Homo sapiens: one gene and its partners. The protein of the gene in region 2 purifies or fractionates together with the protein of the main gene of each other region. This does not show direct contact. Each region holds a gene or a part of one and is shown on either strand. Other genes may lie near its edges.

What was found. The genes of interacting proteins can lie anywhere in the genome.
Region 1: the proteins of TRAF3IP1 (region 2) and PGK1 purify together in Homo sapiens (affinity purification with mass spectrometry; one study listed by BioGRID and IntAct). This does not show direct contact.
Region 3: the proteins of TRAF3IP1 (region 2) and AHCY purify together in Homo sapiens (affinity purification with mass spectrometry; one study listed by BioGRID and IntAct). This does not show direct contact.
Region 4: the proteins of TRAF3IP1 (region 2) and IFT57 purify together in Homo sapiens (affinity purification with mass spectrometry; 5 studies listed by BioGRID and IntAct, with this or other methods). This does not show direct contact.

What each region holds. Positions count from the first base shown.
Region 1 is NC_000023.11:78,114,248-78,117,747, reverse strand, and holds part of PGK1 (phosphoglycerate kinase 1), read right to left. Parts: intron 437-3,500; coding exon 333-436; intron 1-332. UniProt on the Homo sapiens protein: Catalyzes one of the two ATP producing reactions in the glycolytic pathway via the reversible conversion of 1,3-diphosphoglycerate to 3-phosphoglycerate.
Region 2 is NC_000002.12:238,326,130-238,331,149, forward strand, and holds part of TRAF3IP1 (TRAF3-interacting protein 1), read left to right. Parts: intron 1-2,556; coding exon 2,557-2,700; intron 2,701-2,796; coding exon 2,797-3,213; intron 3,214-5,020.
Region 3 is NC_000020.11:34,289,856-34,293,355, forward strand, and holds part of AHCY (adenosylhomocysteinase), read right to left. Parts: intron 2,653-3,500; coding exon 2,503-2,652; intron 1,677-2,502; coding exon 1,564-1,676; intron 1,084-1,563; coding exon 876-1,083; intron 784-875; coding exon 696-783; intron 595-695; coding exon 477-594; intron 1-476. UniProt on the Homo sapiens protein: Catalyzes the hydrolysis of S-adenosyl-L-homocysteine to form adenosine and homocysteine. Binds copper ions.
Region 4 is NC_000003.12:108,163,425-108,166,924, forward strand, and holds part of IFT57 (intraflagellar transport protein 57 homolog), read right to left. Parts: coding exon 3,430-3,500; intron 2,070-3,429; coding exon 2,007-2,069; intron 306-2,006; coding exon 239-305; intron 1-238. UniProt on the Homo sapiens protein: Required for the formation of cilia. Plays an indirect role in sonic hedgehog signaling, cilia being required for all activity of the hedgehog pathway.

The DNA of each region.
Region 1 (3,500 bases), on a different chromosome or scaffold from region 2:
AGAGGATTCCTCAATTTGCTTCCTACTGACAGCATGAGAGTCTGATCTTATAACGTTCATAAAAGGATAACTCTGTACAAAATATCTAAGGTGAGAAAGAGCAACCTCTTCCTGAAACTCCACAAAAAGCCCTACAATTACCAACATTTTTTTACCTTTATTTCCTCTTTGGATGAGAGCTACTCAACAAGAGCCATAGTGGCAGTTCCAATTAGAGAAGCTGAAAGGATTACAGTATAATACAAAACTCTCCAAAAACAACCCAGAGCTTGGGCTACTCAAGTAAATAGGAATACTGTTCTCAGTGTGGTAGTCTACAAGGTTCTTGGTACCTGTGGGCTCTGTGAGCAGTGCCAAAAGCATCATTGACATAGACATCCCCTAGCTTGGAAAGTGAAGCTCGGAAAGCTTCTATTTTGGCTGGCTCGGCTTTAACCTATAGAGAAAAACAAAAACAGAAAATGTGATGGCTCCAAAGACAACTATAAAAGCATTTCATACACCAAGAGTCCTCTTGAACATCTCTAAAGACCCTGAGTAGGTGGGACAGCGATTTTTTACAACCAGCAGTAGGATGTGTTCTTTCTTCCAAATATTCCAGATACTTTGGTCATTTCTGCATGTTTCTGCTCTCCCTTAACTTCCCTCAAATTGCAAACCTAATATTCCTGAACGATGGCTTTACCTCTAATCACATGAAGTTAACCACACCCCACTAGCCTCTCCCCAGCCTTCAGCTCAAGGTTCTGATTATCCTTCCCTCTCCTTGACTTAGTTCCTCATTTTAAACATTCTCCTTGTGATAGTATCATACTTGACTCAAGCTGCTGGCTACCAAGGCCTTTCTGCGAAGTGCAAGGGGCTCTCACACATATTCCTCATAAAAGCAACAAGGGCAAGCTGGGACAGAGAAGGCAGATGGAAACATGACAACAGAAAAGAACCTCAGAAACACTTCACATTGACAAAAAGGTATTTTATGACCTTCTCTGGAAGCTAGGCATCTGAGAAAACAAGAAATATACTTCTACAAAAAGAGAGGAAGAAAATGTAGAAGTTAAACATAGAGCTTTAAAATGTCAGCTTGCCATCAAGGCATACCCCAAAGGGGACAGAAAGCAAGATGGGAGGATAAGCAAACCAGAGAGTCTCTGGCAGGAGATTAAGCAAAGAGGCACAGGAAGCAAGCCAGATGAAAGGGGACAGGACACAGAAGAGTACATAGCACAAAGCAGATGTTCATTTTAAGTCACTGCCCACTCCTATGCTCCTATGTATCAAGGAGGTGAAGGGGACTGCCATAAAAAATGGGGCTTTTCCCTAAAGATCCAAAGAATTGCAGAGGCACTAATGCTAAAATTGAAGATTGTGGCACTCCCATAAGCTCTGTAGACTACAATAACATCTGCCACTAGTGATTGGAAGATGACACATGTAGTAATGATAACAATGCTCAAATGTAAGGAGACCTGAGTTCTATGTCCAGCTCTGACACTAATTCATTGTGTCACCTTTGGGAAGTTGCTCTGAAATTTTCCCTTCTATCAAAAAGGCATAATAACCCCTCCATTTACGAACTATTTAAGGAGGCCAGGGGCAGTAGCTCACACCTATAATCCCAACACTTTGGGAGGCCAATATGGGAGGATCACTTAAGCCCAGGAGTTCGAGATGAGCCTGGGCAACATAGCAAGACCCCGTCTCTACCAGGAAAAAAAAAAAAAAGTAAAGGTCAGTTGGACATGGTGGTATGTGCCTGTAGTCCTAGCTCCCTACAAGGATGAGGCAGGAGGATCACTTCAGCCCTCAAGTTTGAGGCTGCAATAATTAATGTCATGCCACTGCACTCCACCATGGGCAACAGAACAAGACCCTGTCTCTTTAAAAAGATATTTAAGGAAAAACAGGGTAAATTGAAAGCTCTTCATGAAAAAAGGTGCCATGGAAATAATATCAATCAGAACCCATTTCTCATTTACTGATCTGCAAATAACTAGAAGAAAGAGAAGGCCCTTAAAAGATCAATGTGGGCACTTTGGATAAAGGGAAAATGTTTATGTCCTCATATCCTCACTTTGTTTTTGTGGTTTTTTTGAGACAGAGTCTTGCTCTGTTGCCCAGGCTGGAATGCAGTGCTGCAAACTTGGCTCACTGCAACCTCCACATCCTGGGTTCAAGCAATTCTCCTGCCTCAGCCTCCGGAGTAGCTGGAATTACAGGCACTTGCCACCATGCCCGACTTTTTTGTATTTTTAGTAGAAACAGGGTTTCACCATGTTGGCCAGGCAGGTCTCGAACTCCTGACCTTGTGATCCACCCACCTCGGCCTCCCAAAGCGCTGGGATTACAGGCATGAGGCACCGCACCCAGCCTCACTGTTTTTTTAATCCATTTTGAACTTGGGACTGACTCCTGAAATTTCAGGTATTAAAAGCCATTAGATAGTGAATGTCAAGTCAGTTTACTAAAAAAGTCATAGACTACATAGTCAGCTCATCATTTCCTAAATAAAAAGTTTTGCTTCAATATGCCCTTTGCCTCCTGCCACTTCTAAGCCCTAGAGTTCATGCATCATGAGTTCCAGATTAAAAGGACACCAAATTTTAGGTCAGCATTTGACTCCTAATACTGCAGCAAGACCATGCCAAAAGCAGGATAAGGCAAGACCAGCATCTTTGGTGCTAAAAAAAGAAACTGCTTGAAAGCAGGCACTCCCAATGACCTTAATAAATGTGAGAAGCCAAAGGAGACTGAGACACTAGACTCAGAGCATCTTGTTCTCCGAGATACTAAAGACCAGAATAGTGGAAAGTACTAAAAAATGCCTTCAGCTTCCTTTCTAGTCAATGGGCAAATTCAAAATCATCTGCAAAGAGCCAGTTTTATCATTGAATATTTGAATTCTGGTTGTCAGTTCACAGTAATCTGTTTGGTGAGTTATCTATGGCTGCTTTTGCACAACATCGGCAGAGGTGAGTAGTTCCAACAGAGACTATATGCAGATGGAAGTGACTGCACAACACAGAAAGCCTAAAATATTAACTATCTGGCCATTTATAGAAAAAGTTTGCTGATTGAATGGGCTGAGCTCTAAAGACCAACAGCACCACTGCCTCTAACTTTAATCGTATGACTGCCTTTCAGAAACTTAAGTTTTTTTTTTTTTGAGACTTAGTTTCTTTATGAAATAAGTCGATACCTGTACCTCTATCTTAAAGAGAGATTTAAAGGAACATACTTTACACATCTTAAGAAAATGCCTTAAATCCAAGGTGACATCATCATGACCATCATATTCACTGAATACTCTTTCACCTCAAAGGTGTTCACATATTTTTCAAACATATTTAAACACCACCTGAACATGAAGGAGGGCTTCTGGGATGCTGGTAATATTCTATTCCTTGACCTGGGTGGTGGTTACACAAGTGTGTTTACTTTGAGATAACCCATCAAGCTGTGTCGGCATTGTATGCTTCAATAAAAGGTGTCTAAGTTAA
Region 2 (5,020 bases):
GAGATACAGAAGGAGTAATTTAATACTGAATGATAAAACAAATAAGGGTATGTAATACGCAAGTTCTGCAAGCTTTCAGTAGAAAGTCGGGAACCCTGCAGGCACACTGTGCCTGGCTGGAGGCTGGAGGCTGCAGGCCCAGGCTTCCATGCCCTCTGGCTTTCTCCTTTCTGAGGCTCCCTTGAGGACAGGTGGCTGCTTCCAGCCAGGGCTGCAGTGGCTGCAGGAGCTGCTTTTCTTCTTCCCTGGGTCTTATGGGAGTCTCTGTTCTCTTCCTCCATCTCCAGCCTCTGGTGTCTGCTTGCCTGTTGCCCTTCCTCTCTCTCTTCCACCTTTTCTCTCTCTCTCGGTTGCTGTTTCAGTTGTACGGGGAGTAGATTTTTTCTTTCTTGAGCTTTTCACTGTGGGCTAGAAACTTGGGTGTCAAGGCCTCAGGCTTCTCTAGTTAGGTCCAGCCTGGGCCATGTTTGCCCAAATGTTGGAGAAGGTCTTTCCCCAGGGTCTTCCTTCTTTTGAGGGCCGAGTAGTGCCCTGTGGAGGAGCAGGTTGGACTTGTATTGAGAGTGTAATTAATACAGTTTTTCACATACCTAGTGGGTGGTTGGCTGGGGGCTAACCTTAAATGTGACCCAAATGGGAACAGGTAGGTTTCAGCCCCCTCAACAGCAGTGGGTAGTGGAGGTGCATAGTGGTATCAGGCCGACTCCTAGGAGGCCCCCCCAGTGCAGGTCCAGCATGCAAACTTAGAGACTTGGAAGCAGATCTTGCCAGTACACTGGCCTCTGTCCCTAGGCTCCCCAGCTCCCCTTCCCGGGTCCTTTATGTTTCTCATCTTTCTAAAAAGCACATCTGGCTCCTGTCTCCTCTGCTGAATCATCTCCGGCTTCCAGTAGCCTCGGGTCTGGGCCAGCTCCATGGCACAGCTTGTGAGGCTCCTAGAGACCTGCTGCTACTTCTCTCCCTTCAGATCCTTCTCTCGTTTCCCATATCTGAGCCCTCCATTCCAGTCGCCACGCACCCCTGCATTCGGCCCTGGCCGGCTGTCTCCCGTCGGCCTCTTGCCCTGGTGCCTGCTGGCTTCTTGGTACCTGAGCTGCCTTCCTCCTCCAGCCTCACCCAGCAACAATGTGGCGTCTGTGAGTGCTTCCTTGAGCCTGGGCCTCTCCTCCCTCCCAGGCTGACTTAGGTGCCCCTGTAGGCTTCCTATAGGCTGTTGTTTAATTGTTGTGTTTATCTGTGTCCCCAGTACACGGTGTGTCTTTGGCCTAAATGGAGCCTGGCACGCGGCAATCACGCAGCATGTGCTTGTGGAATGAGTGCGTGAGTCAGTGGGACTCCTGACTGAGGTGTCCTGCACTCTGGATGGCTGTCGGGGATGCTGGAGAAGGAATTTTTGCGTTTGATGGGGCTTGAATCAGATCAGTGGTTTTTTACCCATAATTTTATTATTGTGTTAAAGTCCATAAAACATAAAATTTGCCATCTTAACCATGTTGAAGTGTACACTTCAGTGCTGGTAAATTCATTCATCTGCAGCCATCACCACCTTCCATCTCCAGGACTCTTCTCCTTGCAAAACAGACTCTGTCCCCATGAAACACTAACTTCCTCTTCTCCCGTACCCCAGCCCCTGGCACCCTCCATTCTACTTTCTGTCTCTATGAATCTGACTACTCTAGGGACCTCGGATAAGTGGGGTCATAGAGTGTTTGTCATTTTTTTGACTGGCTTATTTCACTTAATATAATGTTCTCAAGGTTTATCCATGTTGTGGCATGTATCAGAATTTCATCGCTTTTTAGGGCTGAATAATATTCCATTGTAATGGATATACCATATTTTGTTTATCCACTCAACTGTCAATGGTACAGTTTGCTCCCACATTTTAGCTATTATGAATAATACTGCTATGAACATGGGTATACAAATATCTCTTCAAGACCCCGTTTTCTATTTTTTTGGATAAATACCCAGAAGGGGAATTATTGGGTCATATGGTAAATCTGTGCCTAATTTTTTGAGGAGCTGTTATACTATTTTCCATAATGGCTGCATCATTTTACATTTCCACCAACAGTGCATGAGAGCTTCAATTTCTCCTTATCCTTGCCAATGCTTGTGGTTTTGTGTGTTTTTTTTTAGGAGCAGCCATCCTAATGGGTGTGAGGTGGTTAGATAAAATCTTAAGGCACTTATGGCTGGGATTCTATGATCCCATTAGAAGTTTAAGGTATTTGTAGTAGAGTTGCATGGGTCAGCTTTATTAACCTTGAACACACACATTCACATTTGACAGCTTGGGTAGACTTGAACCAGGATTCATTTAGCTTGGGTGGACGCTACTGTTAGTGACCAAAGTGCTGAAAGTAATAGTTATCAAGATATGCTGTGCTTTGTATGTGATAATAACATGTTCAAAAAATATTTTATCCTTTGAATTTCATTGTAGACAGAGAATCTGTCTCATGAGCTATCTTTGAATGGCGATGTTCTATTTGTTACGTGTGCGGATCTCATTTCACCTAACACCTCATTTCCTTCCATTTGGACGACAAGCTCTCTAGTGACGATGCGGTGCGGAGGGTTTTAGCTGGAGAGAAGGGAGAAGTGAAAGGCCGGGCCTCACTGACCTCAAGATCTCAGGAATTGGATAATAAGAATGTGCGAGAAGAAGAGTCCAGAGTTCACAAAAATACAGAGGTGAATTCCAAGTCGCACATCTTTGAAAATGAAATAGTGAGTCTTTTTGTAGTTTAGGTAAAAATATTCATAAATGATTTTATTTTTATTTCGTAGGATAGAGGAGACGCTGAAATAAAAGAGAGAAGTACAAGCAGAGATCGAAAACAGAAGGAAGAATTGAAAGAAGACCGCAAGCCAAGAGAAAAGGACAAGGACAAGGAGAAGGCCAAGGAGAATGGCGGAAACAGACACAGAGAAGGGGAGAGAGAGAGAGCCAAAGCCCGGGCCAGGCCAGACAACGAGCGACAGAAAGACAGAGGCAACAGGGAGCGGGACAGAGACTCCGAGCGCAAGAAGGAGACAGAGAGAAAGAGTGAGGGGGGGAAAGAGAAGGAGAGACTGAGAGACAGGGACCGAGAGCGCGACCGGGACAAAGGGAAGGACAGGGACAGACGGAGAGTGAAAAACGGGGAGCACTCCTGGGACCTGGACAGGGAGAAGAACAGAGAGCATGACAAACCTGAGAAAAAGGTAAAGTCTTGCTGAGAACCTCGCCTTTTGCTTAGCAAGAGTTTGTGGTGGTCTCAAACATGATTTTTACCTTTCTTACAATATGACTAGGAAACTGGTTTTCTTTTATGCCTATTTAAAATGATGACAATCTTGGATTCTCAATAGAAACCCAAAGAGATACTTATTTCTTGTCAGTTGTGTTTTGGGTTTTTTTGTTCATCCCCTAATAGAAGTTTATTGTTCAGCCAATCATTTATTAAGGCATTATTCAGTGAGTTTTTAACCATTTCCTACTTCATGTCCAGGGAGAATTCTGCTGGATTATAAGCTCCCTAAGAGCAAAAGCTAGAGATTTCACTCATGTTCACTGTTGGATGCCCAGTCTGATAGAGTGTCTGACACATAGCAGCTTTGCAGTAAATATTTGGTGGTGGAATGGATTGAGCATCCAGGCAAGGGGTGATGGGCTTTTCAGATCATGAAACACTGGATGGAATTGATCAATTGATGGTGGTTTCTGAGGTCTCCCTTTATGGAATTTTGATCTGGGAGTGGTAGAAGATAATTTGAAGGGGGATGTCAGGAAAATATTAAATGCTTGCTCTTTTTAGGGTTTAATGATTCCCCACCAGGCATGTAGAGAAATCAACGTTTTTCAGAGTTTGAGCTGATTTGCCAAGTTGCTCTTGTCCTTGTCTTGCAGGTGTTTTAAGATGTGTTGCTTCTCCCGTGCGTGTCGTTTGTGTCATTTGTGTCACTCTCAGTATTGCTCTGAAGGCTTTGGAGCAGCCTCCACCTTAGCATTGCAAGCGGTGTTTATGCGCAGTCTGAGTTGTGCATGTGGTGTCTTTAGGAGCATGGACATTGCTCAGTTATTAAGGATTAGGGCTGCTTTCAAGGGCTTTTAGGCATCAGCAGATAAGTACAATAAGACCTGAGTTTACTGTAATTATTGTTTAATTAAATTTTCAGGTAAATTTAGGGTTTGCCAGGAAGTCCTGTTGGTTTCAAACTGTTTTCTCAATGTGTGAATTCTTTCTGGACCCACCATGTGTGTTGGGGACGTTTTCCCAGACACCCAGACACGCATTCTTTGGGGGATGTCAAATTGTAAAGCATCCCGCGAAGATGTTGGAAATCATCTTGTCTCCAGCTGCTAGGAAGGAGGACACTGAGGTCGGGAAGGGATCCAGATCTGCCCAGTTGATCCGGCCGGGCAGTGAGGGGCAGGGCCTGAGCTGGTGCCATGGCCTCTTCCTCCCGGGACAGCCATCTTGTCTTGTGGCACTGCGTCTCAGGGTGTGCCTGCCCAGGGGAGGTGGGTGGGCGCCACAGGACTGACCCTGAGGGAATCCTGTAAACCAGGCTTTCCTGTGGGGGTCAGTATAAGCCCATTTTGTGATCTGTGGGTCACAGTGGGATGGGGGGTGCCTACTGGCAAGACTGTGGTTTTGTTAGTAATTGAACGTAGTGTTCTACAAGGCACTTTGGAGTTTTACTATTTAAAATGTCACTCTTTCCCCCTCCACTGCACATCCTGGAGTAATGTACCCTATGATATGTGTCATACCTGGCTTTCCTTATGAGTCTTAGGAATTACAAAGACATTCCCCATCTTTTGCTCCTTTTTAGAGGTGTAAGAAAAAATATTTTTCATGGACCTGATTTTTCTGAGGCACTAGTATATTCGGGTGTATTTTGCTGTGCATGAGGCATCCTAGGAAGGGGTTAACCTTCCTCAGCTCACAAAGCCTTCGGATTGAGGGTCCCCACGTTATGTTCCCTAAAACTGCTAATGAGGTGACTGGCTTTTTAAGTAGAGAGA
Region 3 (3,500 bases), on a different chromosome or scaffold from region 2:
GGTGATCCGCCCATCTCGGCCTTCCAAAGTGCTGGGATTACAGGTGTGAGCCACCATGCCCGGCCAAAGCTGTGTCCTTTGTTACTCTGCCTCCATCCTGACCCCACATGCCGTCCATCCACCCCAGCACTCCCTAAGCTGAGGCTGCCATCATCCCCTGCAGGGATTCTACGAGCCTCCTCTAAAAGCCTCTCTCCCCACCACCCGCCATTGTTGCTTTTATTCTGCACACAGTAGCTAGAGTGATCTTTCTAAAACTACAGCCTCACCACATACAGCTCACCTGCCTGATACCTTCAGGGATGCCGGCTGCCCACAGGATAAGGTTGCCACGTCTGGCTGGCTCTGATGCTAGGCCCTCTTCTCCCCATCCCCCTGCACAGGTTGCCACCATCTCCTCAGCTCTCCTCCCTGGCAGCCAGCACTCCTCTGCACTCCCATCTGCCCAGCCCACTGGCAAGGCGGGAGCTTCTCACCTGCGGCTTGATGTTCACCTTCTCCACGGCGTTCTCGTTGAGCCACTTGACATCGATCTCCACGTCAAAGTGTCCAATGTTACACACAATGGCATCATCCTTCATCTGCTCAAAGTGCCTGTCAGGCAGCCCAAGACCGTGGGAGATTGTCAGGGACAGAAAGCTGTCCCAACTCTGCCCTCCTCCCTCACTCCCCGGGACCCCCCATCTGGCACCTACCGGCCAAGGATGATGTCAATACAGCCTGTGGTGGTGACAAAGATGTTGCCCTCCTGACAGGCCTCATCCATGGTGGTCACCTCATAGCCTGTGCAGAGACAGTGGCTGTGGGTCATCTACGGTGGCCTTGCCCCTCCCTCTGGCCCCAGTGGCTGACAACCAACCCTTGCCCTATCCTACCCTCCATGGCAGCCTGCAGTGCGTTGATGGGGTCAATCTCGGTGATGATGACGCGGGCTCCGAAACCCCGCAGGGCCTGGGCACAGCCCTTGCCCACATCACCATAGCCTGCTACCACCGCTACCTTGCCGGCAATCATCACATCTGTGGCCCGCTTGATGCCATCTATGAGGGACTCCCGGCAGCCATAGAGGTTGTCAAACTTGCTCTGAAAGGAAAGGGGGTAAGGAGACAATAGGGGCAGGCAAGGCCCTGGGGCCAGGACAACTTGGCCTCAGAGTATTCTGAAGAGCCCAGGCATCATGGGCCCACCAAGCATCCCGGCCTGGGCTGAACCCCTCCAGCACCCAATGCCCCCACAAGCCCTTCACCCCGATCGGCTCAAAGAGCTTCTCTCTAATCTTTCTCTGCCAGTGTGGAGCCTTCCTAGGCATCAGTTACTAGGAGAGATTGCCCGGTCAAAGACCTTGCTTAACTTGAAAGCTCTTCTTCCCAAAGCCATAAAGCTCCTAACACCCAGCTCTGACACCCCTTTTAAACGCACTCATTAGCCTGTCTATAACCGCTTTTGCCCCCTCAAATGAGGGCTTCATGTCCCTAATCTCAGCCTTCCTGGGCACTCTTCTTCAGAGGCCTCGTCCTGAGCTGCAGCCACTGTAGCGGGAGCTGTCACTGCCCCTCGGCTCACCTTGGTGACGGAGTCATTGACATTGATGGCAGGCACCTTGAGGATCCCATTGGCCATCATCTTGTAGAGGTTGTGGACCCCAGTCGTGGTCTCCTCAGAGATGCCTCGGATGCCTAAACAAGAGGGGACAGGACAAGCCTCAGAGATGCCACACCTGTGCTCATGCAAATTCCTCATCTTTACCCCCTAAAGCCATTCCTCTTTCTGGGTTCCCATCTCTGTGACTGATCCCACAGGCCCCCCAATCACCCAGACCCGCGTGAGGGAGGAGTCCCCAACGCCCTCCTACAGGGAAGCCACCACCAGGCCTAGTGACTCTGCCTCCGAACAACTCCCAGCTTCTCTATTCTCACTGCCGCTGCTCTAGTCCGTGACCCTGTCGCTTCTTCCCAGTCTCCCTACCACAACCCATCCTCCATGCAGCAGCCATTTCTAACATGTATCTTCTCAGAGAAATCTTCTCAACGCCCTCCAGTTATTTCCCCTTGCTCTGCAAATCAGGTCAAACACTTTTCTATTGGCCTATTAGGCCCTGACACATCTGGTCTTCACGAAGTTCACACCATACCCGCAGTGAAGGCTCCCTTTGCTCACTGCTATCCTGTGGGCCTCTTTTCTGTTTCCTGAACACTCCAGCCATTCCTGCCTCAGGGCCTCTGCACTCTGCGTACCTGCTTTGAACAAAGCTGGCTCCCTCCCAGCTATTCCCAACCATGGCCCTGTCTGTGCCTGCCCTTGGGCCATCAGCTCAGCTGCCCTAGCCTCGCACCCTCAGAAGTCAGGAGGCCCCAGCATGAATGCCAGAGCCTGCCATCCTCCCATCTTCCAGATCCTGCTGCTTGAGGTGATGGGAGTCCTGCCAGGCCTGCGGCCATCATGTGGGCAAACAGGCCCCACCCAGGCCACCAGCACCCAGCCCACCTGCCCCGCCCTGCTCACCTGGCAGAAGCTGCGGGTACTTGGTGTGGATGAGGTTGGTGAGGTCGCCCCCGTCGTCCAGAATCATGTTGAGGGGCCCGTCCTTGAAGTACAGGGTCTGCTCAATGCACCACAGGTACTCCTCGTCCGTTTCGCCCTTCCAGGCATACACTGGAGGGTGAGTGGCACATCAGGGCCTGGACTTCCCAACTGGTACCTGCTCCAGGGAACAACTCTGGCAGAGCCAAAACTACCTCCTTCCCAACTCCCATCCCCAGCCACCTCCGGCCCCTCTGAAAACTCAGCAGTGGTCAGGACACAACTTGGAGCCAGATAGATCTGAGTTCAAACCCTGGCTCTGCCACTTGCCAGCTGTGTGACCTTGGGCAAATCACTTCACCTCTCTGAGCCTCAGTCTTCTCCTCTGTAAATAGGGCTCACAATAGTATGGATTAAGTGAGACAGAAGCCATGTACAGCCCCCCGCCCCAGATATAGATATCAGGAAATCATTCTTTCCTTTCCCATCCCCTTCTGCCTGGGCGCCAAGGACTGAGGCATCAACCCTGAGTGACCAGGGCTTGATACCCCACAACGCCTCCCCCTCAGCAGGATCCACACGGCAGGATCCAGGGTTTGCTCTGCACTGAAAGGACTGGAGCACTAGCAGCCTCTGTGTGGGGGAATCTCAGGCAAAGTCTGGCCAAAAAATGACTACGAGCAGCTACCATGTGTGGGGTACTTGCTTTCTGCCAGACATGACTCTAAATCCTCCATACCCCATCTCATTCTTCCTCATAGAAACCCTGTGAGGCAGCCATGACCATTATCATCACTTACAGATGCCCAGAGAGGAGCTAAGACGCACTTGGGCCACTCTAAATGAAATTCCAGAATAGACACCAGAACTGAGGGCTACTGACCACCAGCCCACACTCCTCCCATGTGGCATGACTAGGGCACAGGTGTGGGGTTCCCAGGAGCCTCTTGTGAGCAAAGGACGCTGGCCAAGCAGAGCCA
Region 4 (3,500 bases), on a different chromosome or scaffold from region 2:
TTGAATCAATAGTTTGAATGTTAAAAACCTCTAAATTATAGTTAAAAAGCCTACCCTTCTCAGCTGATTTATAAGAAAAACAGTACGCTGATTATCAGACATTTTTGTACAATGAATCTCTCTTCAAACAAGCAACAAATAATTTGTTTTATATATTAATACTATTTTGTTAAGTAGGTTTCTTGAAGAGCTATTTTTCTCTTGCTCAGTTTTTCCCCTAAAATGAGCATGTACTTACCACCATCAGTCATGCTGCTGCCCTTTTCTTCCATTTCTTGTTTTACCTTTTCTAATTCTTCCATAACCTTTCATGAAAACAAGTTTTCATGAGCATTACATTTTAATAAACTTTCACAATTTTTGAATTATGTGTTAAGAAAATGTAATTTAGATATTAGCCACACATATAGAAAAATAAAGATATTAGGAATATTTTGGACATAATTCAAATAATATAAAGTATGCAGATATACAAAGCTTTTCAGTTTTTCAGAATGCTCCTAATGTTAAACTTCACCAAATGGCTGTCACATCTGTTTTCTCATGTTGCAATATACTAAACACAATCAAAGTTGTTTTAGTCACTAGACACTCAAACCTCGCAATTATCTCATCGCATATACTTTGAAATTCTCTAATAACTGGTTATTAATTAAAATAGTATAAACATCCTGAAGAGATTTTAGATTTCTAAAGCTTTTCTGGGTATCTTTCTTAATATTATAGTTCTATAAGACATTATGTCACTTTTTCCTCTATAGGACACTAAAAAATGTTTATATCATATGGCTATATATAAGAATATTCTTATTGCTTTATCCAAATCATGAACTCCGAACTCCAAGGAGGCATACTTTGCTGTCACACTTGTTCCTATCTGCACTCTATCTGGCGATTATACTACTATAACCTCTATTATTAGCAAAATTCCAAACCAGCATTAATATAAGTAGAAAATACTATCTTTAAGAAATTGAAAATTTTTTACATGATCTACAACTAAGCTATAATTATTGTGACTTAGTAGGCTTTATTTTTATCATACTGGTGAGTAAAACTTTCCCTGGGAATAAAGTGCTCATCCAAGTAAAGCAAATTAATTTTTTCAGGCATCTGAAATGTTACAACTGGGGATAACTATCTACTCCAAAAGAAGTAAATGGTTCCCTGGACTCCCTTCAAGTGTTAATTTACCTAACATAAGTGAACACTTTACTTCTACATACTGTTTTATTTGCTTAGAAGCACCACAGGATTACAGTCTAAATATTTCTGATGTTATATTTTTAGTGTTTTAAAATAACTTTATTCCTCAAATAATCTCTATAAAAGAGGTTTAATTCTTTCCTGTCAAAACAGTAAAGTTTGTTCCAATTATACTGGATTGTAACCAAAGATCATCTTGGATTTTAGTCCCAAATAAACTACTGACCTTTTTTCAAGGTTTTTTCCTCCTTTGGCTCTTCAGTGAAAAATGGGAATATATATCAGGTCCTACCTCTCTTGCAAGATCATAAAAATAAATGCAACTATTTATTTTTATGCAAATATTCTAAAGGAGGAGGTTATAAGCCACTCCCAATTGTGGACAGAGAAATACACCCAGGATCACACACAAATTATCAATAACAGTCACTAAAAATAAACCTTATATCTTGCAGACTAACGTTAAAATTTGTTATAGATTCCTTAAGTCAGTGCTTTACTATTCATCCCCATGTTAATAATAATTATTATGTAAAAAATGTTGAGGAAAATTATAAGTGTGCTAATATTATGAGCAGGTTTTATGTTGAATTTAATACAGAAACTTCAGGCATCCTGTGGAAACAAGAAATGTATCAATTATTGATTCAGTCATAGGAAAATTAGGGATTATCTCCTAAAGAAAATGATTTAAAGGCACAGGAAGCAACTGAAATTAGCAGTGTTAAACCATTTGTAGGTTCTCAATGGCTGGGGCCCAGCTGACAGGTGAGAAGCAGGGCAAGAGCATCAGTGTGTACCTCAGAGAGGAGTCTGGTTCTTTCCGTCACTCCTCCATTTCCCTGCTGGTATCGCTCCTTTGCCTGAGAGGAAAAACATTTTGTTTAATGGCAAATTCAAAGCAGCAGCAGATTAAATACGACTGACCTCTTTGTGTTTGCAATTTCTGCAGGTCATTTTATGACAACCCTGCTCCTTGTTTGTGAATACATTTGTGAAAGTGACATTTAACTGTAGCTGTTTTATGTCCCTAATAGGCAGCATGTATTTAACTAAGTACTACAAAATGATGAACTACCTTAACCTTCACAAACTGACTGTGTACCTCGCATGGGCATGGTTCACAATAAAAACTGTCCTTGGTCATTCCTAAACAGTTTAGGAGAGGGGCTCTTGGTCAATCTAATTTGCATGCTCCGCAGAGAAAGTCCGTTCTAAAACCAAAAATCAATCAAAGTAGAGCATGAAGCTCAATGATGAATAAGGATTAACATCCCGTAAGACAGTACACTCAACTGGAGTATGTCAGAAACTAACAATCAATTATATAATATTAATATTAGACAAATACATGGTGGCTTTGATCAGAGAGTTTTACATCATTTTGATAGTTAAAATATTCATAAGTAATTGTGTATATGAAGGAATAATACATTTAACAAATAACATCAAAAAGTGTAGATTTCTATTTAGTCTTTGAGGACTTCTGAAAGTATAGAAGTATCTCAAATTTACTTCTACTTTTTTCTCTTTCTCAACTTTGTCTGCTGAAGACAAAAAATATGCCTTCAACTGATGTTTGCAACTGTCCTTACTAGCCTTCTTTAACATCAGAAAATAGGGGGCACAAATCCCAAAGGAAAGCTTTTAGATCCCTACTGCTGGGACAAAGAACTGGTGCTTTCAAAGTCTAGTGATTTTATTTTTTGGTTAAAATTCTAAAACTTTGAAAGAATGAAAAATTTGTCTCATTTTATTAATTAAACTGCTTGTCTCTGAATGTATCTTGCTTTCACATTCCTTATTATGTGGTTGTAAGCCAGAATGGCAAGGACTGTCTTTTTCCTTTGACACATGTAAATGCATACTATTCTTCTTCCTCCTACGCCAATGGTAAATTAACAACAGACTTATAGAAGCAAAACCAGGTGTCCTGATACTCTGTTCCTGTTCTAAGCTATGTTCCCCCAACAGCATATGCCTTCATTTACTTAAATCAAATGAAGACGTGCATTTAAAGACTTCCAGGAGAAAACAACTTCTATTACATGTGAAATGGAAATAAGTTCACTCGGCTCTCTTGGCTTCCTAAAGTGGGCAGAAAATTGATGTTTTGCTGTTCATGAAAAGCATTTCATGATTCTCAAATGAACAGTATTGTGTCAAGTTTAGGGTTTAGGGTTGTTAACTTGAATAAATCCTTGGAAATCATTCTTAAATTACCTCACTCAGCTGGGCTTGAGCTGCACGATATTCTTGAACCAAATTCTCAAGCTGATTGTTGATGTACTTTT